7 linked regions of the Homo sapiens genome follow. The protein of the gene in region 4 purifies or fractionates together with the protein of the main gene of each other region. This does not show direct contact. Each region holds a gene or a part of one and is shown on either strand. Other genes may lie near its edges. The genes, in order: PYM1, WARS1, PPIL2, CDA, FBLN1, RNF181 and MTMR6.

Region 1 (2,982 bases), on a different chromosome or scaffold from region 4:
CAGGAGAATTGCTTGAACCCGGGAGGCAGAGGTTGCAGTGAGCTGAAACCGCGCCACTACACTCCAGCCTGGCAGACAGAGCGAGACTCCATCTCACAAAAAAAGAAAAAGAAAAAAATATATATCGGCTGGGCACAGTAACTCATGCCTAAAATCCCAGCACTTTAGGAGGCCAAGGTGGGTTGATCACCTGAAATTAGGAGTTCAAGACCAGCCTGGCCAACATGGTGAAACCCCATCTCTACTAAAAAATTAGCCAGGTGTGGTGGTGGGCACCTGTAATCACAGCTACTCGGGAGGGAGGCTGAGGCAGGAGAACTGCGTGAACTCAGGAGACAGAGTTTGCAGTGAGCCCAGATTACGTCACTGCACTCCAACCTGGGCAACAGCACAAAACTCTGTCTCGAAAAGAAAAGAAATCACTCCCAATACTTGTCTTCCTGTGCCAAACTCAGGAGATACAATATCTACTAGGAGCTGAAAATAAGGAGGCAAAGCCAGACATGTCTACTTGTGTTTATTCTCATTTTTGCTTTTTTTAAAAAAAAAAAAAAAATGAGGGATGGAGAGGGAAATAACCCATAAACACCGCGAACAGGAACCAAGACTCCAAGACTTGGGCATACTCCCTCTACCCTCAGCCTCAGTTCTCCAAGAGATTCCCACCCACCTGATTTTCTTTTAAACAAGACACCCAAATCAGCAGCAAAGGTACCTGGGGTAGTCACTGAGATTTTGAACACTGGGAATGGGAGGGGGAAAGTCCAAAAAGTAGAAGTTGGGAAGAAAAGGGAAGGATTGAGGGAGACGCTAGGCTCTGGAGGACAGAGCTGGGCCGCAGGAGGTGGAAGTAAGCCAGTATGGGGGGTACCCCTCCTGACTGCTGTTGCCCGTATTCCCCCAGACCCCAGAGAGCCCCACGGTTTGTTCTGCAGTCCATTCCCTATTCCCCAAAGGCCTCAGAGGCCTAACTCCAAGTCCTCTAACTCCTCTTCTAGCGCCCTCCTCCTTGCTAGCTTTTCTAGCTGCTCTTTGCTAGGCTGGCTGACTTCCCCAGCCTGGATCCGCTGCTGCAGCTCTTCCACCTGCCGGAGTTTCTTCTTTAGGTTCTTTATCTTCTTGGCTTTCTCAGTGGTGGCAGCTGAGTCAGGCTGGTCAGATGCAGCTGTGGGGGCTGCCCGAGAGCCCTGTGGAGCACTGGGGAGTTGGGCTGTCTCTTCCAGGGACACCTTATCAAGAGTCCTGCTCAAGGCCTCTGCCTCTCCTTTCTCTTGCTGCTGCCGCCTCTTCTCCTTTCGCTTCAGGTTACGTTTGGCTGTCTTGGAGAGGCCTGGTTCACCACCTTCAGGCCTGGATGGGGTGACAGGAGCAGTGGCCTCAGGGCTTAGCCCTGGGGGCAACTCTGGTTTACTCTTGAAAAACTTCACATACTTGTTTTCATATCTGCAGGAAACAAAGGATGTCAAGAGTTTCAGAGAATTACTGACTTTTTGATCCCTTTTCTTAAACTTCCAAACACTTCATCCTCATTACATTCTTGCTTCCTTTTTTTGTTGTTGTTTTTGTGGGGTTGTTTGTTTTTTGAGATAGAGTCTCGCTCAGTTGCCCAGGCTGGAGTGTAATGGCGCAATCTCAGCTCACTGCAACCTCCACCTCCAGGGTTCAAGCAATTCTCCTGCCTCAGCCTCCCGGGTAGCTGGGATTACAGGCGCCTGCCACCACGCCTGGCTAACTGTGTATTTTTAGTAGAGATGGGGTTTCACCATGTTGGTCAGGCTGGTCTTCAACTCCTGACCTCAGGTGATCCACCGATCTTGGCCTCCCAAAGTGCTTGGGATTACAGAGAGCCACTGCGCCTGCCTGTTTGTTTTTGAGACAGAGTCTCGCTCTGTCGCCAGGGCTGAAGTGCACTGGCGCAATCTCAGCTCACTGCAACCTCCCACTTCCCGGGTTCAAGAGATTCTCCTGCCTCAGCCTCCTGAGTAGCTGGGATTACAGGCTCGTGCCACCACGCCTGGCTGATGTTTGTATTTTGTAATTTTGTATTTTTAGTACAGACGGGGTTTCACCACTTTGGGGAGGCTGTTCTTGAACTCCTGACCTCAAGTAATCCACCTGCCTAGGCCTCCCAAAGTGCTCAGATTACAGATGTAGGCCACTGGGCCTGACCACCTTTCTCTCTTTATGGTCCCTCCCCAACTTTCCTCTGCTCTGCAGGAAAGATGCAGCGAAGTCCCTAGAACCTAAAGCTCTGGAGGTTCTAATGAACAGAGGTCAAAAGTATAGGACTAGTGATCTGTAACCCTCACTCATCCCTGAATCCCAGACTCTTTCTCTCCTTTCTCAGATAGTTGCCCCTCCTTCCATTTCCTTGGGGCTTAGGAGAGTCCTCCCTGAACTTGTAGGCATAAGGATATTCTATCCTTCTGTAGGGACCCCATCAGAAAACCCCTACGCAAAGCCTAACCACGTACACTGGGACCTCCTCCTGGGGCACATATCCTTCTTTCACCCTCCGCTGCTTGCGCCAGGTCCCGTCAGGTCGCTGTGTTGACGCGATATACTTGCCTAAAATAAGAAAAATCAAGTTGAAAATTACTCTTATTTTCAAACATTTTACAAGATGAGACAAGAATGTATAAATGTACATACCATCTCTCAGCACCCATTCATCCAAATGCAACCATTAGGCTCCTTTTCTCATACCAACACTCAATCCCTCTCTCATTATTTATTTACCGAGTGCCAATACACCGTACAAGAAACCATCCTTGCCCTCAAGAAGATTCTATTTGTAGGTAAGACAGGATAGGCACAGAGGAAGAATTTTGTTAAAAAACCAAGGCAATAGCATGGGAACATGAAAGGCAGTAAATGAACAAGAGGCTAAAAAGACACAAAAACCACGGGGAGGAGAAATGACAATAGCGGATGTTGTAAAGGAGAAATTTTATTTAGATGGAACTTAAAAAAATAGGTCAA
Region 2 (3,500 bases), on a different chromosome or scaffold from region 4:
GCCATGAAAATTATACTAACACGGCTGGGCATGGTGGCTCACACCTGTAATCGCAGCACTTTGGGAGGCTGAGGCGGGGAGGATCACTTGAGGTCAGGAGTTCAAGACCAGCCTGGCCAACATGGCAAAACCCATGAGTGAGACTCTGTCTCAAAAAAAAAAAAAAAAAAGAAAATTATGCTAATGATGACATCTATGTTCTTGTTTGATCCCATTTCATGGACACGGCTGCTATGACACACAGCCACTAAACCCAGGTGCCAGGATCTGGATCCCTGTCTATTTTCCTTCCTTCAAGGATGCCACAGGGCCTCCATGCTCACATGGCTGAACCAAGAGAAGTAATTTTAAAAGATCTAATAGGTGCTGGGCGTGGTGGCTCATGCCTGTAATCCCAGTGCTTTGGGAGGCCGAGGCAGGCAGATCATGAGGTCAGAAGATCGAGACCATCCTGGCTAACACAGTGAAACCCCGTCTCTACTAAAAATACAAAAAATTAGCCGGACATGGTGGCGGGCACCTGTAGTCCCAGCTACTTGGGAGGCTGAGGCAAGAGAATGGTGTGAACCTGAGAGGCGGAGCTTGCAGTGAGCCGAGATTGTGCCACTGCACTCCAGCCTGGGTGACAGAGCGAGACTCCGTCTCAAAAAAAAAAAGAAAAAGAAAAAGCTAACAGTTTTACTGGCTGATAGAAGGGCGAGATTTCCTATCAGGGTATACATTGCTCTCAATGGATATAAAACCACTACTCAGTTTCTTTCTTTTTTTTTTTTTTTTTTTTTGAGACAGAGTCTCACTCTGTTGCCCAGGCTGGAATGCAGTGGCATGATCTCGGCTCACTGCAACCTCCGCCTCCCAGGTTCAAGCGATTCTTCTGCCTCAGCCTCCCAAGTAGCTGCAACTACAGGAGCACGCCACCACACCCGGCTAATTTTTGTGTTTTTAGTAGAGATGGGGTTTCACCATATTGGCCAGGCTGGTCTCGAACTCCTGACCTCCTGACCTTGTGATCCACCCACCTCAGCCTCCCAAAGTGCTGGGATTACAGGCATGAGCCACCGCGCCTGGCTGCCACTACTCAGTTTTAAGGTCTTATAAGAGGGAACGTTCTGGGGATGCGGCTCTAAGCAAGTCCTCCTGTGCTCACTGCTCACCTGCCCCTTTAGTGTCCCTCTTATCCTGCCTCGGCATGGTCCCTGATGGTGAGCTAACATGGGAGGGCCTGCTCAGAGCCCAGCCTGGGCTGCAGGAGCATAGCAATGAACCCACTCCTCCTGGGGAATCACTTTAGGGGAGGAGTAACACGTCTTTGGGGAGTGGAGTAACATGCCTTAGGGGAGTACCATGCCTTAGGAGAGACCACGCCTTAGGGGAGTACTATGACTTAGAAGAGTATCTCACCTTAGGGGAGTACCACAACTCAGGTGCTCAAGAAATATTTGTTGAGCTAGATAGTATCCTTCTTGTGATGGTTGACCAAAGTCTTATTTTTCTAACACATTTCTTGGTAATCATTTGGGATGAAACTTGAAGGATTTTCAGAATGAAATATTTTGGTTTATTAAATGGCTGATTAAAAGAACTAGACTGAGGAAACTGTGTAACCACTGAGTCTTTTCTCTGTGAGGAAAAGGTGCGTTGAAAAGGAGGAAGACATAACTCTGGAAGACTGACTATCCTTGGCAAGAAACTGCAAGGCAGGACTTCCTGGCACAGCTGAGGATGAAGATCTGAGATGCCATCATGCTGTGGCTGAGCCCATATTTTAAATTTCTGTAAATGTAATTATGGAGACAATAATCGAGTCTTTAAGATACTGATATCACTTAATCCTTTCTATGTACATACACAGCTTTTCACTTTCAAAATTATTGGTAAATAAAACCAATAAACCAGCTCATAGCATTTTTTTTTCCTTTTTGAGATGGAGTCTCGCTCTGTTGCCCAGGCTGGAGTGCAATGGCGTGATCTCAACTCACTGTAACCTCCACCTCCCGGGTTCAAGCGATTCTCCTGCTTCAGCCACCTGAGTAGCTGGGCTTATAGGTGCGTGCCACCACACCCAACTAATTTTTGTATTTTCAATAGAGATGGGTTTCACCATGTTGGTCAGGCTGGTCTTGAACTCCTGACCTCGTGACCCGCCCACCTCGGCCTCCCAAAGTGCTGGGATTACAGGTGTGAGCCACCATGGCTGGCCACTCATAGCATTTAATAAAGGAAGAAGAACATTTACTAGGCCTTAAGACCATTTCAGTTGTTTCGAATTTAGCTGTGGTCATGACAACTTGACATCCTCCTCTACCTATTGAAAAGGCAGCCAGACGTTTTCTCCTTACCCCATGTAGTCCAGGTCAGAGAATATGAAAGTCTTGTTGATGTCAAAGCCACAGGCGATGATGTCCTTGGCATTCTCCACAGCATAGCTATAGGCCTGGTCCAGGGTCAGGTCCTTCCACAGATACTTCTCGTCATCCGTCATCTGGATGACCAAGGGCACGTTAAATACATCCTGGAGCCACCTAAAGAAACACAGGGGGAGAAAGCTGACGTCTCATCTCCCCTGTGGAGGAACGCCATCGTGCATCTGAAAACACAGCTCCTACTTACAACGTATGTTAAAACTTCCTTGCCTACAAAATCACAATTTGAATTGTGATATGAATTTGACTATGGATAATGATAAGGTCTACTACCATTTATCGACCAGGTGGCCCTGTGTGCTCTGTGTTAGCTGCTCTACACACTTTGTTTTGAAGCTTTACAGTAGTTCTATGAGGTAGGTATCTTCATTCTCATCTTGCAGATGTGGAAACTTAGGCTCAGAGAAGTAGCAGGCCCATGGCCATGCAGACAGGGAGCAGGATGAGAAGAGGAGCAGGCCTGGCTGACTCCAAAGCTGCGCTCTCCCCATCACTCCATGGTCCTCTAAAGTGAGCCCAGGAACAAAGTGAATGGAAGCCAAAAAAGTGCCAACTCTTGACATCTTGGTTGCTCAGCAAATGAACTAGCATGATCTTGTCAGTTCTAAACATGGTTTATAAGCAACATTCTCAATTCACTAAGAGAGTAAGAAAAGCCATAAGATCCAATACTTACTTTGTGAAAATAAATGGAATGAGGTGACCTACATGCATTGCTTCAGAAGAGGGGCCCCGGCCCGTGTACAGATAAAATGGCTTCTTATTTTCATAGGCATCAAGAACCTGATTCATATCTCTAAAGGAAAAAGGAGAAGAGGAAGAGTGTGATTTTCTGAGAAAAATATCAAGGCACTAATGCACTTTTGGAAATGGAAAATATAGACAGAGACGAAACAACATGGATAATAACTAGAATTTGTTACCTTTGGTGCTTATGATATAAATATAGACAGGAAACTTCTACTGAAATGGTTTCTCCTGTGAGTGTTTTAAAAGACAAGATGTGTAGGTTTGGAATAATGTGTTTAAAAGATGGATCCAGCTATGCAGTTACTGGGACTCCTGGAATCCCTCCAA
Region 3 (3,500 bases), on a different chromosome or scaffold from region 4:
TCTATTTTTTTTTTTTTTTTAGTAGAGACTGGTTTCACCGTGTTAGCCAGAATGGTCTCCATCTCCTGACCTCGTGATCTGCCCGCCTTGGCCTCCCAAAGTGCTGGGATTATAGGCGTGAGCCACCTTGCCCGGCCGGTTTTTTTTGTTTTTTGTTTTGTTTGTTTTTGAGACAGAGTCTCCCCCGTCCCCCAGGCTGGAGTGTAGTGGTGCTGTCACAGCTCACTGCAGCCTCAACCTGCCTTCCTGCCTTAGTCTTTGGAGTAGCTGGGACCACAGGTGTGAGCTGTCACACCTGGCTAAGTTTTAAATTTTCTTGTAGAGACAGATTCTCGCTTTGTTGCCCCAGCTGTTCTCCAACGCCTGGACTCAAGCAATCTTCCTGCCTTGGCCTCCCAAACTGTTGGGATTATAGGTGTGAGCCACTGTGCCTGGTCTCCATGTCTGTTGTGTTTATCACTGTGTGGCTGACATATAGTAGGTGTTTTTTTGTTTGTTTGTTTTTTTGAGACAGAGTCTCACTCTGTCACCCAGGCTGGAGTACAGTGGTGTGATCTTGGCTGACTGCAACCTCCGCCTCCCGGGATCAAGCAATTCTCTGCTTCAGCCTCCCGAGTAGCTGGGATTACAGGCACCCACCACCATGCCCAGCTAATTTTTGTATTTTTAGTAGAGACGTGGTTTCACCATGTTGGCCAGGCTTGTCTTAAACTTCTGACCTCTAGTGATTCGCCTGCCTCGGGCTCCCAAAGTGTTGGGATTACAGGCGTTAGCCACCGTGCCCGCCCCATAGTAGGTATTTAGTAAGCATTTGCTGAGTAAGCAAAGATTACTCACTTCCAAAGACTTCGTCCTCTTTATAAAGGTGGTGGTGGTAGCATTATCTTCCTCTCTTCTTCAGGTACATTACCTGTGCTGAATACACTCACTTTTATGGTGGCAAGAAGCCAGGTAAGGCATGCAGTCTTTCTGTTCCCCGTTGGGGGAGTGGTATTAAGGAACTGTGTCTTCAGGATACAGTGAGCTGTAAAAATAGACAACAAGAACACGGAAACTATGGTAGACGAATGGGCTGAGGACACAGTTCATGAAAGAGAAATATACTCAAGATAGAAGAACCTGCTTCATCTTAGTGGTGATTTTTGTAAAATGTAATTTAAAATATTCCCCGATGCTGGGAGCTAAGTAAAAAATAAATAAGTAAATGAAATACAAAATTACATGTACATTTAAATGTTTTTTCTCTATCAAGTTTATAAGGAATAAAAAGAATGATAATATTTTCAGCTGTCAAAACTATCAAGACTACAATAACAAGAGCACTGTCATAATTTTAATGGAAGTAAAAAGTATGCACTTTTCCCAGTAAGTTCTTTTTTGATGTACCCCAAGTGTTTTGGTTTATCTGTTAAAAGGTTTTTAATCCACAGCAATTGCTGTACTTAAAAATTTGCATGAACTTTTTCATAAGCTGTAACTGAATTGCTAGCAGGTGCACATAGATGAAATACTTTACAGAGTAAGATTTCTGTTTTTTATTTCATTTTTAAACAGATCTCCCACAAACAAATTTTCGTCGTTTACCTTTTGACCACTGCAGGTAAGAGTTTTGCGAGTTTACCTTTCCCTTGTAATTGTTCTCTGATCCTGTCTGATAGTGAATCTGCCCCTTGTGGATGTGGGGTTATGCGTAAAAGTGTGCCTTGAAGATGTGGCCCTTCAGTTCATGTTGGGAGAAGATGCAGAGTCCTCGTCATGATGTTAGGAGCTTGCCTTGGTGTTGGATCCTGCTCTAGACCTTCACCAGGGGTGGCACAAACACTATTGTAGTTGGAGGAGAAGGTTGGTGAGAGAGGGAGGTGGCCAGGCTGCCCAGAGAGGGCTCCCTGGGACAGCATTTCAGGAGGTCACCATGCCAGTCTCAGCCAGCCCACATCCTGACCAGGGTGCGTGGCAACTCACCAGGAATGACTGTCCTTTTTCAGTCTCTCTCTGCAGCCCTTTGTCTACCCAGTCTGCACTCCCGATGGCATCGTCTTTGACTTACTGTGAGTTTTTCCTTGAATTTTGATCTAACAAATGTGAGATTCTCAACACCCATTAAGGAAGGGGACCCTTGGTACCCTTGGGTAGGGCTCTTGGGCACACAGAAGTAACAGCTAGGGCCTTGGGGACATGGCAGCAATGCTGCTGTGACCCTTGGGCAGGCAGCTCTAGTTGTCAGGTACTGCTGTCACTGCCTGGAATGGGGTAGACCACCCCCTACCCCTCCAAGTGCAGGCATGAGCCACTGCACCTGGCCTGAAAATGAATTTTTAGGAAATTTCAGCCTTATTTTAGAAAAAGAAAATTTTACCACAGTCCCACTATCCAAGATAACCACTGTAAATATGCTAATTTTTTGTGAACTTATTTGTAGTAACATGATTGAGATAACACTGTGAACACTGTGAAGTGTTGACAGGTAACACTCTGTGGATCTATTTATTCACTTGGTTGTGATGAGAGCTTTTTTCCCCGTGTGATTCAGAATTCTCTGAAAGTATAGTTTTTCTTTGTTCTTTTCTTTTTTTTTTATTTGAGACAGGGTCTCACTATGTTGCCCAGGCTGGTCTTGAACTCCTGCGCTGAAGCAGTCCTTCCACCTCAGCCTCCTGAGTAGCTGAGATTTCAGGCACACACCATCACCATGCCTGGCTTGAAAGTATAGTTTTTGATGCTAGCTTAGTATTTAATTATACAGATGTATCAACATTTATGACGGAGTGGTGGCTTATGTCTGTAGTCCCAGCACTTTGGGAGGCTGAGGCAGGAGGATCTCTTGAACCCAGGAGTTTGAGACCAGCCTGGGCAACATGGTGAGAACCTGTGTCTACAAAAAAGTGCAAAAATTAGCCAGCCATGGTGGTGTGCACCTGTAGTCCCAGCTACTTGGAAGCTGAGGTGGGAGGATCGCTTGAGCCCAGGGGTTGGAGGCTGCAGTGAGCCATGACTGAAACACTGCACTCCAGCCTGAGTGACAAGGCGAAACCTTGTCTCAAAGAAAAAAAACCCAAACCATTTACTTACTCATTTTCACCTGTAGTTTTTGTTGTTTATACATAACTACAGTAATAACTCTGAACATATTTTGAAACCTATGTATCCACAAATATCCCCCAACTTCCTGAGACAAGATGAGGAGCTCTTCCTCTCCTAAAGTGAAGCAAGACCCCTTCACAGGCCTCTAACCTGGAAGCAGCCCTGCAAGACCACAGTGTTGTTACCAGGTGGCGCCTAAGCACCCTGGTGATGCTTTCTGTTCTGTCTTCCCTTCAGGAACATTGTTCCATGGCTTAAGAAGTACGGGACCAACCCCAGCAATGGAGAGGTAGGTGGCTGTGCAGGAGTTTCAGTGATGCTAGTGAATGCTATCCTCTCACTTCTCCTTTTGTTCTGGTGGTTTTCATGAACACAGGAACATGGGAGAGAACCGTTCATGGGGCCCAGTGAGGAGGGAC
Region 4 (3,500 bases):
TATTTTTAGTAGACAGGGTTTCACCATATTGGCCAGGCTGATCTCAAACTCCTGACCTTGTGATCCGCCCGCTTTGGCCTCCCAAAGTGCTGGGATTATAGGCTTGAGCCACCATGCCCAGCCTCATCATGTGTTTTTATAGGCCAGGCTTGTGGCTTCTTTGGCGATCCAATTCTATCAAAAGTTGGAAACATCCTGATCTATTTGCTTCCAATTATTTCCATACAGAAATGCCACACCCAGAGATCCCTTCTGGACATGGTTCTGAAGCCTGCCAACTCTGGCATTTTCCTAACTGGCTCCCATGCCTGGCCCATTCCTGCTGCCCCATCTTAATGCTGGCTATTGTGGTGCCTGAAACAACAGGCTGTGTGGGCAGATGACACATCACATCTTTGCCACAGGGCTGATTCCCATTGCCAGGGAGAGAAATTTCAGTGGTGGGTACCACGGCCTGCCTTCCTGGTTATTGCAGGTGGAGCTTTACCAAATAACAGACTAGGAGGAGTCACCATCTGGCCATCTTGCCTCATCTGTGTTTTCTCCTTTGCGTTGCTCAACCACTAAGCCAATGTCACATACTTTAGATTTTTTTTGTTCAAGTTGCATCTCACCTTCAGCACAAATGTCTGTATTAGACATAGGTTATGCTACTATAACAAACAGATTCCAAGATGCAGTGATATAAACATGGTGGAATTCTCTTTTTCTCTCACACAACAATTCAGAGTAGGCCCCAGGCAAACGGGCAACTCTGCCCCATGAGTTGACCAGGTTTCCAAATTCCTTCTCTCTCCTTGCTGCTCCTCCATTCCCTTGGCCACGCAGTCAAAAGTGTCCCACCCCATCACCTCCACCTTCCAGTCTGTGGAAGGAGAAAAGAATGGAAGTAACAGGCAAGCAACCTCCTTACCAAAAGTATGATCCAGAAATTTCCCACATCACCTTGGGCCACATCCCATTGGCCAGAACTGCATCATGTGGCCACACTGTGCTGCAAGGGAGTCTGGGAATTACAGTCCCTAGCTGAGCGGCCATGCTGGAATGGGAGGCACTTGTATTACTTAAAGGAAGAAATAGGAAATGAATACTGGGGAACAACTCCTATCTCCGCCTCAGGGAAAAAGGCAATTTACAAACAGTGATACAGATGGAATACCACATCTTGCTGGTCAGGGGAAAACCCAGCTCCCATAGTGATTTGTTCGTAGACTCACTTCCCTGAATATGGGGACTTTCTTAGCCAATCTGGTTATGCCAACATCTTGCCTCCTAGGAGCAGCCTTGGCTTATTGTCCCCCAGCAACAACCCTGAGAGAGCCAACAGGAAGGACTCCCTTACTGAGAGCTGGGCCATCTTAGGAGCCCACATCCCACTGGAGGCCCGAGGATTGTTTTAAGTCTTGTGAAATCACAGGCAACTCGCACAAAGCTCGAGGTGTTTTTTTTGTTTGTTTGTTAATTGATTTCGTTGTTAGTTGGTTTTGACAGTGTGTTTGTTTTGCAACACAACTGACACAGAACCCTGGCTGAACTCTGACAGCCAGTACCTAACCCCCAAAATTTTGTCCAGGCTCAAACTTGGAATCAGGATCTGTCTTAGTCCATTCAGGCTGCTATAACAGAATACCATAGACTGGGTAGCTTGTAAATAACAGAAATGTATTGCTCACAGTTCTGGAGACTGGAAAGTCCAGGGTTCAAGGCACTGGCAGATTCAGTGAGGGCCTGCTTAGTCATAGACGGTGACTCCTTGCTATGTCCTCATGCGGCAGATGGGGCAAGGCAGTTCTCTGGTTTTATAAGTGCATGACTCCCATTCCTAGGCTTGGTCCCCTTCATTCCATTCTCATTATCTAATCATTCCTCCAAAGGCCCCACTTCCTAATACCATCACTTTGGGGGCTAGGATTTCAACATATGAATTTGATGGGACACATTCAGACCATGGGGCTCTTAGATCTCTTAGATGCAGGTGTGGGGGCTCTACTTATTTTTGTAAGCCTCGGGATCTACCCTGGCCTTGACCTCTGCAGGGGTGATGGAGCTGCCTAATCTGCCTGTTGTGCTGCCCTGCTCCCAGGCTGTGCTTCATCATGGAGGCATTGGGTAAATTAAGACAGTGCCAGGTTCTTGGGAAGGGCCACTACCATGGGCCAAAGAATCTACCAGTGCCCCAGGTCGAATTGCCCTAATTGCCCTGTCCTTCTCCCCACCTTGTTTGGAGTAACCAGTTCCTTCCTGCTTTGGAATGGGGCAAACTTCTTACTCAACACACGCAACAGGAAGTGTCTCTGCCAGACATACCACTGGACTCTGCTCTCTTCTCAGGGTGCAACATAGAAAATGCCTGCTACCCGCTGGGCATCTGTGCTGAACGGACCGCTATCCAGAAGGCCGTCTCAGAAGGGTACAAGGATTTCAGGGCAATTGCTATCGCCAGGTGAGTGGGAAAGCCAGGTTGCAACAATATTCATTCATCTCTTTAGCCAACATCTTCCTTACACATATTATTCATTCATTCATTCATCTGACATATGTTTATTGTGGACTTCCTATGTGCCAGGCACTGTACAGGGCCCTGGGATGAGTGCTGAGGATAAGGAGATAAATAAGAAATGGAGTTTGCCCTCAGTGAGCCTGCAAAGCAGGTAAATAAGCAAGGCAACTCTCATACAAGGGCCAGTATGCCCCTGTTCCAGCAACACAACGTGATACAGACTCCTGTCCTACAAGATATAACAGAAAGGCAGCATTGAAACATAAAGCGGGGGGAACCTGAGCCAGGCGCGGTGGCTCACGCCTGTAATCCCAGCACTTTGGGAGGCCAAGATGGGCAGATCACGAGGTCAGGAGATCGAAACCATCCTGGCTAACACAGTGAAACCCCGTCTCTACTAAAAATACAAAAAAATTAGCTGAGCGTGGTGGCGGATGCTTGTAGTCCCAGCTACTTGGGAGGCTGAGGCAGGAGAATGGTGTGAACCTGGGAGGCAGAGCTTGCAGTGAGCCGAGATGGCGCCACTGCACTCCAGCCTGGGCGACAGAGCAAGACTCCGTCTCAAAAAAAAAAAAAATTTTTTTTTGCTGATGGTGGCATGCCCATAGTCCCAGCTATTTGGGAGGCTGAGGCAGGAGGATCACTTGAGCCTGGGAGTTCGAGGCTGGAATGAGCCATGATTATGCCATTGCACTCCAGCCTGGGGGACAGAGTGAGACCCTGTCTCAAAAACAACACAAAACAAAAAAGCATTGAGAACAGTTTGGAAAGGTCTTCACCGGCAAGTAATTATCACAGTGTTGTACCATTGGATTCTCTTGGCTTACTTATAGGTTCTGTATTGTTTGAATAACAAAAAAGGAATACTGAAAGCTGGGTTTAGTGCAAGGCCAGTGGGGACTGCACAGAAGCAAGCCCACGTGCCTTTTATAAGATCCTACACTTTGCCTCAGTCTGGCCCCAAGGAGACCCAGCTTAATTTGTTTCTGAGTAAGTAAAG
Region 5 (3,500 bases), on a different chromosome or scaffold from region 4:
GGCCTGCCTCTAACTTCGTGTTGGAGTTAGGCTTTCCCCACCCGCAGAGACAGGGAGAAGCACCCTGGCCTTCCGGATGACGACATTCCCCAGGCATGTCCCCAGCCCTTGAGAAAGACACTCCTTGGTTGCACATCTCAAAGGGACAGAGAAACCGTTTACATTTGCAAGTTTTTCTAAAGTAGATGCTTCTAAGGAACATGGAGGTCAGCGCCTGTAGTCAGGTTTGGGCTGGAACCAAGAGAAAATTCTTTTGGCAGCATTGATCTTTCTCAGACAGGCATGTCAAGGGGGCTGGGTCTACATCCTGGATACCTGGTCTTGGGCCAATGGCAGCCACGCTGAAGTTGGGTCAGGTCTCTTGGTATGTGGGGGTTGGACAGAGTTGTTCCTGCCAACAGTCTTGTGGTTCTCAGATAACACCAACCTCCTGGGCTGATGGGAAGGTCACATGAACTGCATGTCAGCCCAGGGCCTGGCACATACTAGGTGCTTGGCAGATGTCGTGTCTTGTATACGGATTAGGTTCTGAGCTGAGCAGACACTGAGAGCTTTGGATGGCCCTCCACAATCGTCCACATTGCCGATGACACCCTGTTTGGTGCCGTGCACTGGCTCACAGGACGGCTTCTGCAGCCTGACTCAAACATGGCAGGTCCTAACATTTTGCCATGAGAATTTTCCTTCCTGATGAGATGGTCGCAGGGGTTGGATATGCCACAGTGAGCTGTGGTGTGCATGATTCTCAAATCGGAGGACGGACGGTGTGAGGGGTCCTGGGCTTAGTTCACAAGAACGTGTATGGACAAGGAACAAGATTCACGAGTTGAGTCTCTCAGGCTTGTGTTCAAACCTGACTTCTGCCATTTCCATGGCCTTGAAGAAGTAACTCAGTCTTTCCTGGGCCATGGTGTCCTCATCTGTAAAACGGGCATAGTAGGACCAACCCCATAGGGGGTTGTGAGGATGAAACGAGATTAAGCATGTGAAGAGCTTATCACAGGGCCAAGCACAGGATGAAGAGCTGGCGGTGTGGAGGCTGCTGGCTTTATTATTATTTAGTAGAAGTAGTGGGATTCCTGGCTTGTGCTTCCTCTAGTCATTCATAAATTGCTGAAAAGTCGGCATTCATATCCACATTAGTGGACAATATTGTGGATATAGAACCAGAGCCTGGCCAACCTTGCTATGTGACCTTACTAACCATTTGTTAGGGTCCTGCCCCGGGTGTGTAGCAAGAACTCGGTCCTGCACTGGGGAGTGTCTCTAGCGGGGGATGAGAGACCACACTGGACAGGTGGAGGCCAGGCCTGGTGTGTGGGGGCCACAGAGATGAAACACGGGGTGGAAGGCTATTGGACGTTCTGTGACAGCCACATAGTATAGATTTAAGGCTTTTCCAGCCACAATCTCTGTTGCAACCGCTGAACTCTGCTGTGGTAGCAGAGAAGTGGCCAGAGGACCATGGTAAAAGAATGAGTGTGGCAGGGCACAGTGGCTCACACCTGTAATCCCAGCACTTTGGGAGGCTGAGGCAGGTGGATTACTTGAGGTCAGGAGTTCGAGACCAGTATGGCCAACATCGTGAAACCCTGTGTCTACTAAAAATACAAAAATTAGCCGGGCATGGTGGTGCACACCTGTAATCCCCCAGCTACTCAGGAGGCTGAGGCAGGAGAACTGCTTGAATTCATGTCCACATTTAGTGGACAATAGCCTCCCGGAGGTGGAGATTGCAGTGAGCTGAGATTGAGCTACTTGTACTCCAGCCTGGGCGACAGACAAAGACTTTGTCTCAAAAAAAAAAAGAGTGAATGTGGCTGTATTCTTTATTTTATTGTTATTATTATTTTGAGACGGAGTCTCGCTCTGTCGCCCAGGCTGGAGTGCAGTGGTGTGATCTTGGCTCACTGCAACCTCTGCCTCCTTGTTCAAGCAATTCTCCTGCTTCAGCCTCCCGAGAAGTTGTGACTACAGGTGCGTGCCACCATGCCTGGCTAATTCTTGTATTTTTAGTAGAGATGGGTTTCATCATGCTGGCCAGGCTGGTCTCGAACCCCTGACCTCGTGATCCGCCCACCTCGGCCTCCCGAAGTGCTGGAATTACAGGCATGAGCCACCATGCCTTGCCGGGCTGTGTTCTAATAAAACTTTATTTATAAAAACAAGTGTTGGGACAAATTTGGCCCATAGACTATGATTTGCTGACCTCTGCTTTAGGTAAAGGGGACAGTTGAGCAGTAGTTCAGAGTTGCTGAGTGGCCCAGTGAGTTCTGTGCATTGGAGTATGAGGAGTACTGGCGTATGGGCTGGGTGGCCGAGGACTTCCTTGTGTGCCGTCATCTGTTTAGGATGCCATCTTGGAGGTGAAGTGGAGAGCACAGGATCAGATTTCCATTTGAGAACTAGAATGGACTCTGGCAGCCAGGTCGGGGCAGACTTCCAGGGGCCAAGGCTGGAGGCGATCGCTGCCATCCTGGCAGGAGAAGTTGTGGTCGAAGCAGGCAGGAGCAGGGATGGAGGGTCCGGAGCCACCAGCGATGACGCCTCTCCCTCGGCCACACCCCCCGGGACCTCTGTCTCTCCGAGTGTGTTAACCTGAGGGAGGTGGAGAGGAGATTTTCTGTTCACTGACCCTGAGGGCTACTGTGGAGGCAGGGACGTATGATGCTCTGAGCGGTGACCCTCGTTTTGTATTTCAGACATCAATGAGTGCAGCAGCAGCCCCTGTAGCCAGGAGTGTGCCAACGTCTACGGCTCCTACCAGTGTTACTGCCGGCGAGGCTACCAGCTCAGCGATGTGGATGGAGTCACCTGTGAAGGTGCGGACGCCCCTGCCTGCTGAGGGGGAAAGCACCCCCTGGTCTTGCCATGACACAGCAGCACGGCCTCTGACTTTCAAAATCCACAGGGAAGAGCCTGCTGGGATTTCTTCACCTGACAAACCTTCCATGTCCACCCTTGGAGGCAAGCGGGTGGTTTGCTGTTTTCCCTCCAACTGAGGTTTTTTTTTTTTTTTTTTTTTTTTTTTGAGACACGGTCTTGCTCTGTTGCCCAGGCTGGAGTGATATGGTGCAATCACTGCTCACTGCAGCCTCAGCTTCCCAGGCTCAAGTGATCCTCCCACCTCAGCCTCCCAAGTAGTTGGGACCATAGGTGTATACCACCATGCCTGGCTAATTTTTTATTTTTAAAAAATTAGAGACGGGGCCTTGCTGTGTTGCCCAGGCTGGTCTCGAACTCCGTGGCTCAAGTGATCCTCTTGCTTCAGCCTCCCAAATTGCTGGGATTACAGGCATGAGCCACCGTGCCTGGCCCCCAACTGAAATTCTAATATACTTTTCCCATCCTTAAGCGTGAGGGTGGGAAGGCAGCAAACCACTCCTGACTTGTTCTTTAATAAATGTGCACGGCGGTAATTACAACATGCACTGGGACCTTGGGCCGCATATCTCAGGTCTTGGTGGTGGTGCATGGCTGAGAGGTAAGGAGGGGGCTCA
Region 6 (3,656 bases), on a different chromosome or scaffold from region 4:
AAAACCTGTGGGATTACAAAGTTAACTAGACATTGCAGTGGGAGGAGGGTGCAGGCTAGTTTATCAGCTTTTTTTTTTTTTTTTTTTGAGACGGAGTTTTGCTCTTGTTGCCCAGGCTAGAGTGCAATGGCATGATCTCAGCTCACTGCAACTTCTGCCTCCCAGGTTCAAGCAATTCTCCTGCCTCAGCCTCCCAAGTAGCTGGGATTACAGGTGCGTGCCACCATGCCCAGCTAATGTTTGTATTTTTAGTAGAAACGGGGTTTCACCATGTTGGTCAGGAAGGTCTCGAACTCCTGACCTCGTGATCCACCTGTCTTGGCCTCCCAAACTGCTGGCATTACAGACATGAGCCACTGCACCCAGCCTAGTTTATCAGCTTTAAGTAATTAACTGGGTACCAGACCCTGACACATTTTGCCTTCCAACCATGAACACATAGGCCCAAGCCCTGGCTATTGCAGTAATCCAGTTCTTTACCACTGCCATGAGTCCAGATGGGCCAGCAGGGAGGAAAACCGCAGCCTGGTGCCTTCTGCGATTTAGGATCACCTTCCCCAACAGAAGTAGAGACCTGATGGAGGATGCAGAGCCCCTGGCCAGGTCTGTGATCAATACAGCCTCAGGGTGGGTAAAGAAACCTTTAATGAGGATTCAAGGTTAATAAGGAAGACGCAGAGGGCCAGCACTCAGCCCCAACCTCCTCACGTGTACATGGCTCCATGGAGGTTCTCCAGTCGGTGTTGCTGCTGCTGTTTTCGAGCCTGAAGGAAAGAAGGCATGCTGGGCAGGGGCCAAAACTGAAGGCCTATGGGTGAGGGGATGGGCAGCTATTATGGGGCTGGCTCTGTTTTCAGGCCTCTGGCGTCTGCATTGCTGAGGCTCTCACCACAAATCAAAGTCACTAAGAAGACAGCCAGAGCCAGGGATTCTGAGGCCTACCCAGTCCTGCTGAGGTGGGAAGTGATGGCAGCGGGGACAGGACTCAGGGAGCCCATTACGACCCCTCCACTTAAGCATCAGCCCCTACCTTATCTCGTCTGTGCTCCTCATAAGTGTCGTCATCAGTGGGCAGCTCATAGCGGCACAAGGGACAGGAATTTGTCTGAGAAAAGTAGAGTAGTGTTCTAGCCTTGGTCTGATCTTCATAAGCTGATAACCACCCTCCCCTGCTCCCAACTGCCACTCTTCTTCCATCCCCCAGCAGTCCATGAACAGAAAGAAGCTTGAGTACTGGGCCCAGGGCACGGTGAGAGCTAGAAGAAGAGAAGCAGTACCTTGCTTAGCCAGGGCAGAATGCAGCTGGAATGGAAAAGGTGATGGCAAGGCATCTCAATGGCAGTCTCCTCCTCCTCAAATTCCAAAAGACACACGGGGCACTTGAGCTCTTTAGGAAGGAGTGCTGATCAGGAGAGCTGCTACAGGCTCTGCCTCCCAAGCTCCCACTCCTGAAGGACACTTGCCCCCACCTGACCTGGAAAACTGAAGGACCAGACCACAGTCTGGCTTGGGGAAGGGGTGGGTCTGGCCCAAATAGCAGAAAGAATCAGTGTCCTCACCAGCCTGAGAGCCTCTGATGACTGTCCTGGGGAGGTTCTCAACCACAGTCTTGGCAGCTGGTGGAGGCAGGTGGTGGTCCCAATCTACTACCAACCCCAAGTCTTCAAAGTCCATCCTATTGAAAAGTGACCTGGGGAAGGGGATGTAAAGTCAGAACAAAGGAAAACTATGCTTTTTCTTTGTCCCCATAATCCACTGGACATTAATAAACACGCTGCCCAGCTAGTAGGAATAATAGCTACCCTTAGTAGTTAGTAGATGCTCACTAGATAAAAAGCACGATGGGAAATAGTTTACAACTGCTATCAGACCGCCCCAGCACGTAAAGTGTTTATTCCCATTTTACACATGAGGCAACAGATTCAGAGAAGTTACTCAGGCTACGCTGAATAACCTGGTAGAGCCCAGATTCCAAGACCAAGCCAGATTCCAGGTCCAGTAACAGCAGTGCCTGCTGTTACTGATGAATATACCCACTCACAGCACACGGCCCCAACCCCGCCCCCATGCCTCACCTTCTCTGAGACCTCCCAGAGCCTGCTGTCCTTCCGCCCCCACGCCCACCACTCTCCAGCTCCAATCTTTCCCGCAATCCCCTTGCCCCAGGCCGGCCCAACGGACGGCCCAAATTATCGAGATGCTCATCCCCACACCCCTCAGTCTCGCCGCCCGTACTAACACTCCAGATTACTCATCTGTCCTCCCCAGAATCCGCTGCCCCTGGTAATCCGCCTTCTCCAGCCAGCCCCAGCCCAGAAACCTGCTGGTTGGACCCTATCCCCAAGCCCCGCGCACCCACCTTGCGAGCTCCAGCAGCATGTTGGTTCGCGTCTCCTGCTCAGGGTCCGACGGCTCGCAGTCGTGTTCATCGAAATAGGACGCCATGGCTGCCCAGCCTTCTGACACAGCCCTCGGACCCTGCTCGATAGCGGCCTAGCGGCGCTGGCCAATAAACTGACGAGCTGAGAGAGGCTGGCCAATCAGAGTATCCGAGGGACGGGCATAGTGGCTCGTTAAACAGCACGGAAAGCGGAAGTACTAATTCGGCCCCCTCTCATTGGCTTGAACAAGTCAGGTGACCAGAGACTAACGCCAATGATGGAGATCTGGCTGGTGAGGAATCATTTGTTTTGGAGTCGGAGCCAAGACTGAATTCCCGGGGATTTCTGGCGCGATCGCGTCCAAGTGTCTGGTGTGTAAGGCTCTTCAGTCTGCCCTGAAGCTCAGAGGGCTTCGACAGTACAGATGCTAGAGGCCTCTGCGAGCAAAGGCGGCGCTGGCCCAGGGGTTCAGGTTCCTGCGAGCGTTGGCCCATGGCGCTTCCGGATGCGCTGTCCGGATCCCCGCCGGACACTTCTGCCCCCGCGGCCCTCTAGTTGGTTCACCAGTTTGCGTTTGATTCCTGCGCATTTCTTATGTGTTAGGCATAATAATAAAGGGTGGGGCAAGCCTCCCCAACTGAGAGAGATCTCTTTGCCGGAGAACCTGGGGCCTCAACCAGCTCATGGGACTGTTACCTTCAGCCCGTTGCTATCCCTAGCTTCTGTAAAACTGCTGGCTTGTACTAAGACCTTTTCATTCCTGGCTACACATGAATTCCCAGAGGAGAGAATGGGCGCGGAGGAGCTTTAGAAACACCCGTGTCTGATACCTTCGAAGATTCTGATTTAACTGATCTGTGGTGGGGCCTGGGCAATGGCACTTGTATAAATTATGCAGGTGAAGCAGGTTTAAGAACCACTGCACTCAATGATTTGGATGATAGGTACTATTTAGCATCTAGAACTGTTAGTCTGATGTATGTTTTACACGCTCGATCATCCCCTCAATAGACCCAGGAGCTAAGCGTCATTATGCCCTTTTTACCTCAGAAGTGGCTTGCCCAAATTTGCAGTCTGTAAGTGGTGTTGCAGACCAGCTGCAGGGCCAAGTGCTTTCCTCCATCTTTCCCAAGAGAGGAAGACGCTAATGCGCTCAGTAAAACTAACACGCTCTGTAAGGGGTGAAGCTCCACACAACTCAGGCTTATTCTGGTTTCTGTCAGTAGCGCTCACTTTACCCAGCAAGGAACTGCTTATTTTACACACTTGACCCTG
Region 7 (3,767 bases), on a different chromosome or scaffold from region 4:
ACAACAAAATTAGCCCGGTGTGGTGGTGCATGCCTGTTATCCCAGCTACTCCGGAGGCTGAGGCAGGAGAATCACTTGAACCCAGAGGCGGAGGTTGTGGTGAGACAAGATTGTGCCACTTTAACTCTGTCCTGGGAAACAAGAGTGAAACTCCGTCTCAAAAAAAAAAAAAAAAAAAAAAAAAAAAGAATAATTCGGCATCCCTTTAAGAACAAACAAGATGTTTACTGACCATGATGGGTGGTTTACAGCAGTGTTTCTCAAAGTATGATTCCCCAACCATTTGCATCACAATATCCAAAATATTGCTAAGTGCAAACAATTTATTGGTATGCAAATGATTTTAACTCCAGAGTCCCAACCCCTAACTACTGAATCAGAAACTGAACACCAGGGCTATAGAGTCTACTACTAGCTTCTGAAAGTTCCTTTCAGTTATGCAGGCCACTATTTTATAAAAGTTGCCATTTAAATGGATATTTTACTTTCCTAGAAATAACTAGAGTAGCACAAATACTGTTTATTAAAATGTCAAGGTTTCATGTTTACATTTTCTTATATCAAGTACAATGGTATATATACTTTTTTTTGAGATAATTATTCTAGATTCCAGGCTTTCTTCTAGATGTAAGTTCCTAAAGCTTATAGTTTACATTGATATCTAGACATATATCTTAAACAGTCTCCAAATTTTCTTTAATTAATCAAAGTATGTTAATGTCACTTGGAATTCTACATGGAAAAGCCAACAAAATAACTAAAACTTGACTAATGAAGATCAGCGTCACTAATAAAAGTCTGCAACTGTAGTATTAGGTTGGTGCAAAAGTAATTGCGGTTTTTGTCATCACTTTCAATGGCAAAAGCCCCAATTACTTTTGCAGCAACTATATAGTTTTATAAATGATCAGCATTTAATCCAACTTAGCATGTCAACTGGAAATTTTTCAATATTTTAAAGCTGACCTTCTGCAAAAAATGTTTCAAAACAGGCTTGACTGACACCACCTCCCTGCTCTGCTACCCGACCAAATAAATTGAATTTGTTTTAAAAGAGTTCCCTTCATCTTTACTCAAGATTCCCTGAGCTACTTCTAGCCTAGCTGACCTTTTCAAAACACCCTCAATAAAATTATCCTCTTGTCAGCCAGTTATTTTCTTCCTCATATTTACATCCAGATCTGCCTTTGGAGAGACATTTCACCTCGAATGTTTGTACTCAATGGACCCTGCCTTCCATCAAGTTGGCAAGGGCACAAAAAAATAGTGATTGTAATATAAGCAAGTGACAGGAACAAAATGAAAACTTAATGACATTATTACCTACATCTGATGGGCCTTTTAGCCCACTATACCTATTTTAAATATTCTGGAAATTATTTTTGTATGAAACAGGTATTATTTATCAACAAACTTTTGGAAAATAAACTCCTCAAACCTTATGCTGTTATGTTAATGTAATGGGCAAGTCTACTTGCCTAGGTGAGAAGAAAAAAAAAACAACTACAACTTGATTCCATTTGTTTTATCCAGAAGAAAAACATTCAAAGTAAAATGTGAACATTTAATTACCTTTAAATCATATATGAAGTAATTTACATGCTATACACTTCCAAACACACTGAACATAAATTCAACTTTATAAGACATATACACAGTCTGCTTTTGCCAACATATACCCTGTAGGTCACTTAAGATGTAACTGATTTCTCAGTCCACCTGTGAGCATATAAACACACAAATATATGTCTGAAGTTGAAGATTAAGATAATAAACCAGAGTTGAATACAAGAAGTCAGCCACAGAAGATTCTAAAACCACAATCAGTGACTGGAACACCAAGGCACAAAAACTTCCCTTTGTAGTCACAGAGATTAAGTTTCCATTCCCAGTGCTTAAATATGGAAGCAGGATTGGTTAATCACATACTATATTTTATAGTGCATTTCTGTTGCTGTTTAAAAAGGAATATTTTTTAAATTACATAATGTATTACAGAAAAGCATTGGAAAAATAAACAGGATAAGATAAGCTCTCATACAATAAAGTTTTTTTTGGTCTGAAAAAGATGTTTATATTCAAAACTAATATAATAGAGGTGTAACAGAAAGTAGCATGAGGAACACTATGCAAATTGCCTAATACTCGAATTGTACTTCATGCCACCATGTTATTTAAATTTTCAATTTTAAAGCCAGTTGGGTGATATTGCTAATTCCAAGTGATAGTTTTGGGGTTTTTATGTTTTGTTTCTTGTTTTTTGGTAATTTAAAGATATGTACTAGTACACAGAATAAACAGTAAATATAACATGGCAAAATGAAATCTTTCCCAGAGTTTATGTTGCTTTTGTTAAACAGTAACTTTGTACTAGAATCTCTTTTTTTTTCTATATTTAACAAGAAGAAAAATAATGCTCCACATAGAAATGACTTCAAAATTCATGCAACCATGCACAACCTAAACTATCTGTACTTCCCTTTTTTATTTACCCAAAAGTTTTTGAGTAAACTGAAAGTTAGATACTCCAGGAACAGCAACTCATTGAGCAATAAGGCAGTTTAAAAATATACATATACATGTACTATTCATTGTTTCTCAGAACAGTTTTAGAGCTTTAGCTCTTTAAACTTACACAGTTGTGAAAGAAATAAAGCCAACCACAAAATAAGAATCAATGGAATGCAGTAATCCATATATAAAAGACAGTCAAATGTGCTTATACGTATTCAAGAAATCAATATTCTAAGCTGTAAATAATAAATTATCAAATGTAGCACTAAACAAATTATGATCAGAATAAACCTTCAGTTTCATTAATTTTGAATACAAAAGTGGGGCAGGCTAAACGTGAACAGTGTACTTCTACAAGTGTTTATATAGAAGTATTGTAGCATGCACCCCCAGCAGTAATGAGAGCACAATTCTTTACAAACAAAACAAGGCTGACCAGAAGAAAAACAAAACAAAAAATCTTGTTGTAGGCTGTAAAACTTAAGGGTAAAGAATCCACTGGGAATTTAAGGCTTTCTTAGAAATATTTTTCATGGCACTTTAACATTAAATATCACTAAAAGGCAAAATATGTAAATATTCATAGTTACAAAGCTACATAATTGAAAGTACATGCCATATCATTTATTAAGAAACTATGTTGTCAAATTTTGTTTTCTTGAAGTTAAATTGTACTTAAGGAAGGTTATTTATGTTTGGCTGAATTAACATAAATCATAAACGTCAATTCACTAGTGTACAGTGCAAATTGTGTTTTGAGTAAATACATCAAATACCACTCATTTCTTACAGAACTGAATGTCATTCCTTGCTGGAAATGCAATTAAAATGACTTATTTCTCTCACAAGGGTAGTTATTATCCTTCCTTCAACTATTAGCCTACTGTTAAACCCTAAAATTGTTATTAGACAAATTCCTTTTGGTTATGCTTACAGACCATCCTCACAATAATCCTTTTCTTGTACTGCAATCATTGCAGAAAAAACTCTATGAGTCTAACAAGTCATTCTTGCCACACCATACTCTAAGCTGACCACAGCAGGTTCTGATTTAGAAAACTCTTCTGCATATTCACTATAACGATTATCTGCCGGGCTGCTGCCCTCTATAGTTCGAAGAGCATCATTTACGGGTAGCAGAGTCTGCTCTTTAAAACACAGGGAAGTTTTGAGGTTAGGTGATTCAGGATGAACTGAATGTAACAATTCCTTGGTGAGGATGCCATCTGTTTGCTTATTTTTGCGTTGTTTAA

What was found.
Region 1: the proteins of CDA (region 4) and PYM1 purify together in Homo sapiens (affinity purification with mass spectrometry; 2 studies listed by BioGRID and IntAct, with this or other methods). This does not show direct contact.
Region 2: the proteins of CDA (region 4) and WARS1 fractionate together in Homo sapiens (co-fractionation; one large-scale study listed by BioGRID). This does not show direct contact.
Region 3: the proteins of CDA (region 4) and PPIL2 purify together in Homo sapiens (co-immunoprecipitation; one large-scale study listed by IntAct). This does not show direct contact.
Region 5: the proteins of CDA (region 4) and FBLN1 purify together in Homo sapiens (co-immunoprecipitation; one large-scale study listed by IntAct). This does not show direct contact.
Region 6: the proteins of CDA (region 4) and RNF181 purify together in Homo sapiens (affinity purification with mass spectrometry; 2 studies listed by BioGRID and IntAct, with this or other methods). This does not show direct contact.
Region 7: the proteins of CDA (region 4) and MTMR6 purify together in Homo sapiens (co-immunoprecipitation; 3 studies listed by BioGRID and IntAct, with this or other methods). This does not show direct contact.

The regions. Positions count from the first base shown.
Region 1 is NC_000012.12:55,900,913-55,903,894, forward strand, and holds the end of PYM1 (partner of Y14 and mago), read right to left. Parts: intron 2,569-2,982; coding exon 2,475-2,568; intron 1,444-2,474; coding exon 960-1,443; 3' UTR 501-959; downstream 1-500. UniProt on the Homo sapiens protein: Key regulator of the exon junction complex (EJC), a multiprotein complex that associates immediately upstream of the exon-exon junction on mRNAs and serves as a positional landmark for the intron exon structure of genes and directs post-transcriptional processes in the cytoplasm such as mRNA export, nonsense-mediated mRNA decay (NMD) or translation.
Region 2 is NC_000014.9:100,351,348-100,354,847, forward strand, and holds part of WARS1 (tryptophan--tRNA ligase, cytoplasmic), read right to left. Parts: intron 3,220-3,500; coding exon 3,100-3,219; intron 2,523-3,099; coding exon 2,340-2,522; intron 1-2,339. UniProt on the Homo sapiens protein: Catalyzes the attachment of tryptophan to tRNA(Trp) in a two-step reaction: tryptophan is first activated by ATP to form Trp-AMP and then transferred to the acceptor end of the tRNA(Trp).
Region 3 is NC_000022.11:21,669,012-21,672,511, forward strand, and holds part of PPIL2 (RING-type E3 ubiquitin-protein ligase PPIL2), read left to right. Parts: intron 1-901; coding exon 902-951; intron 952-1,287; exon of another isoform or gene 1,288-1,365; intron 1,366-1,554; coding exon 1,555-1,600; intron 1,601-1,985; coding exon 1,986-2,048; intron 2,049-3,318; coding exon 3,319-3,370; intron 3,371-3,500. UniProt on the Homo sapiens protein: Has a ubiquitin-protein ligase activity acting as an E3 ubiquitin protein ligase or as an ubiquitin-ubiquitin ligase promoting elongation of ubiquitin chains on substrates.
Region 4 is NC_000001.11:20,602,597-20,606,096, forward strand, and holds part of CDA (cytidine deaminase), read left to right. Parts: intron 1-2,331; coding exon 2,332-2,443; intron 2,444-3,500. UniProt on the Homo sapiens protein: This enzyme scavenges exogenous and endogenous cytidine and 2'-deoxycytidine for UMP synthesis.
Region 5 is NC_000022.11:45,544,383-45,547,882, forward strand, and holds part of FBLN1 (fibulin-1 isoform D precursor), read left to right. Parts: intron 1-2,702; coding exon 2,703-2,822; intron 2,823-3,500. UniProt on the Homo sapiens protein: Incorporated into fibronectin-containing matrix fibers. May play a role in cell adhesion and migration along protein fibers within the extracellular matrix (ECM).
Region 6 is NC_000002.12:85,594,553-85,598,208, reverse strand, and holds RNF181 (E3 ubiquitin-protein ligase RNF181), read right to left. Parts: upstream 2,465-3,656; 5' UTR 2,446-2,464; coding exon 2,360-2,445; intron 1,691-2,359; coding exon 1,560-1,690; intron 1,388-1,559; coding exon 1,278-1,387; intron 1,257-1,277; coding exon of another isoform or gene 1,106-1,256; coding exon 1,031-1,105; intron 765-1,030; coding exon 705-764; coding exon of another isoform or gene 644-704; 3' UTR 501-643; downstream 1-500.
Region 7 is NC_000013.11:25,245,722-25,249,488, forward strand, and holds the end of MTMR6 (phosphatidylinositol-3,5-bisphosphate 3-phosphatase MTMR6), read right to left. Parts: coding exon 3,511-3,767; 3' UTR 501-3,510; downstream 1-500. UniProt on the Homo sapiens protein: Lipid phosphatase that specifically dephosphorylates the D-3 position of phosphatidylinositol 3-phosphate and phosphatidylinositol 3,5-bisphosphate, generating phosphatidylinositol and phosphatidylinositol 5-phosphate.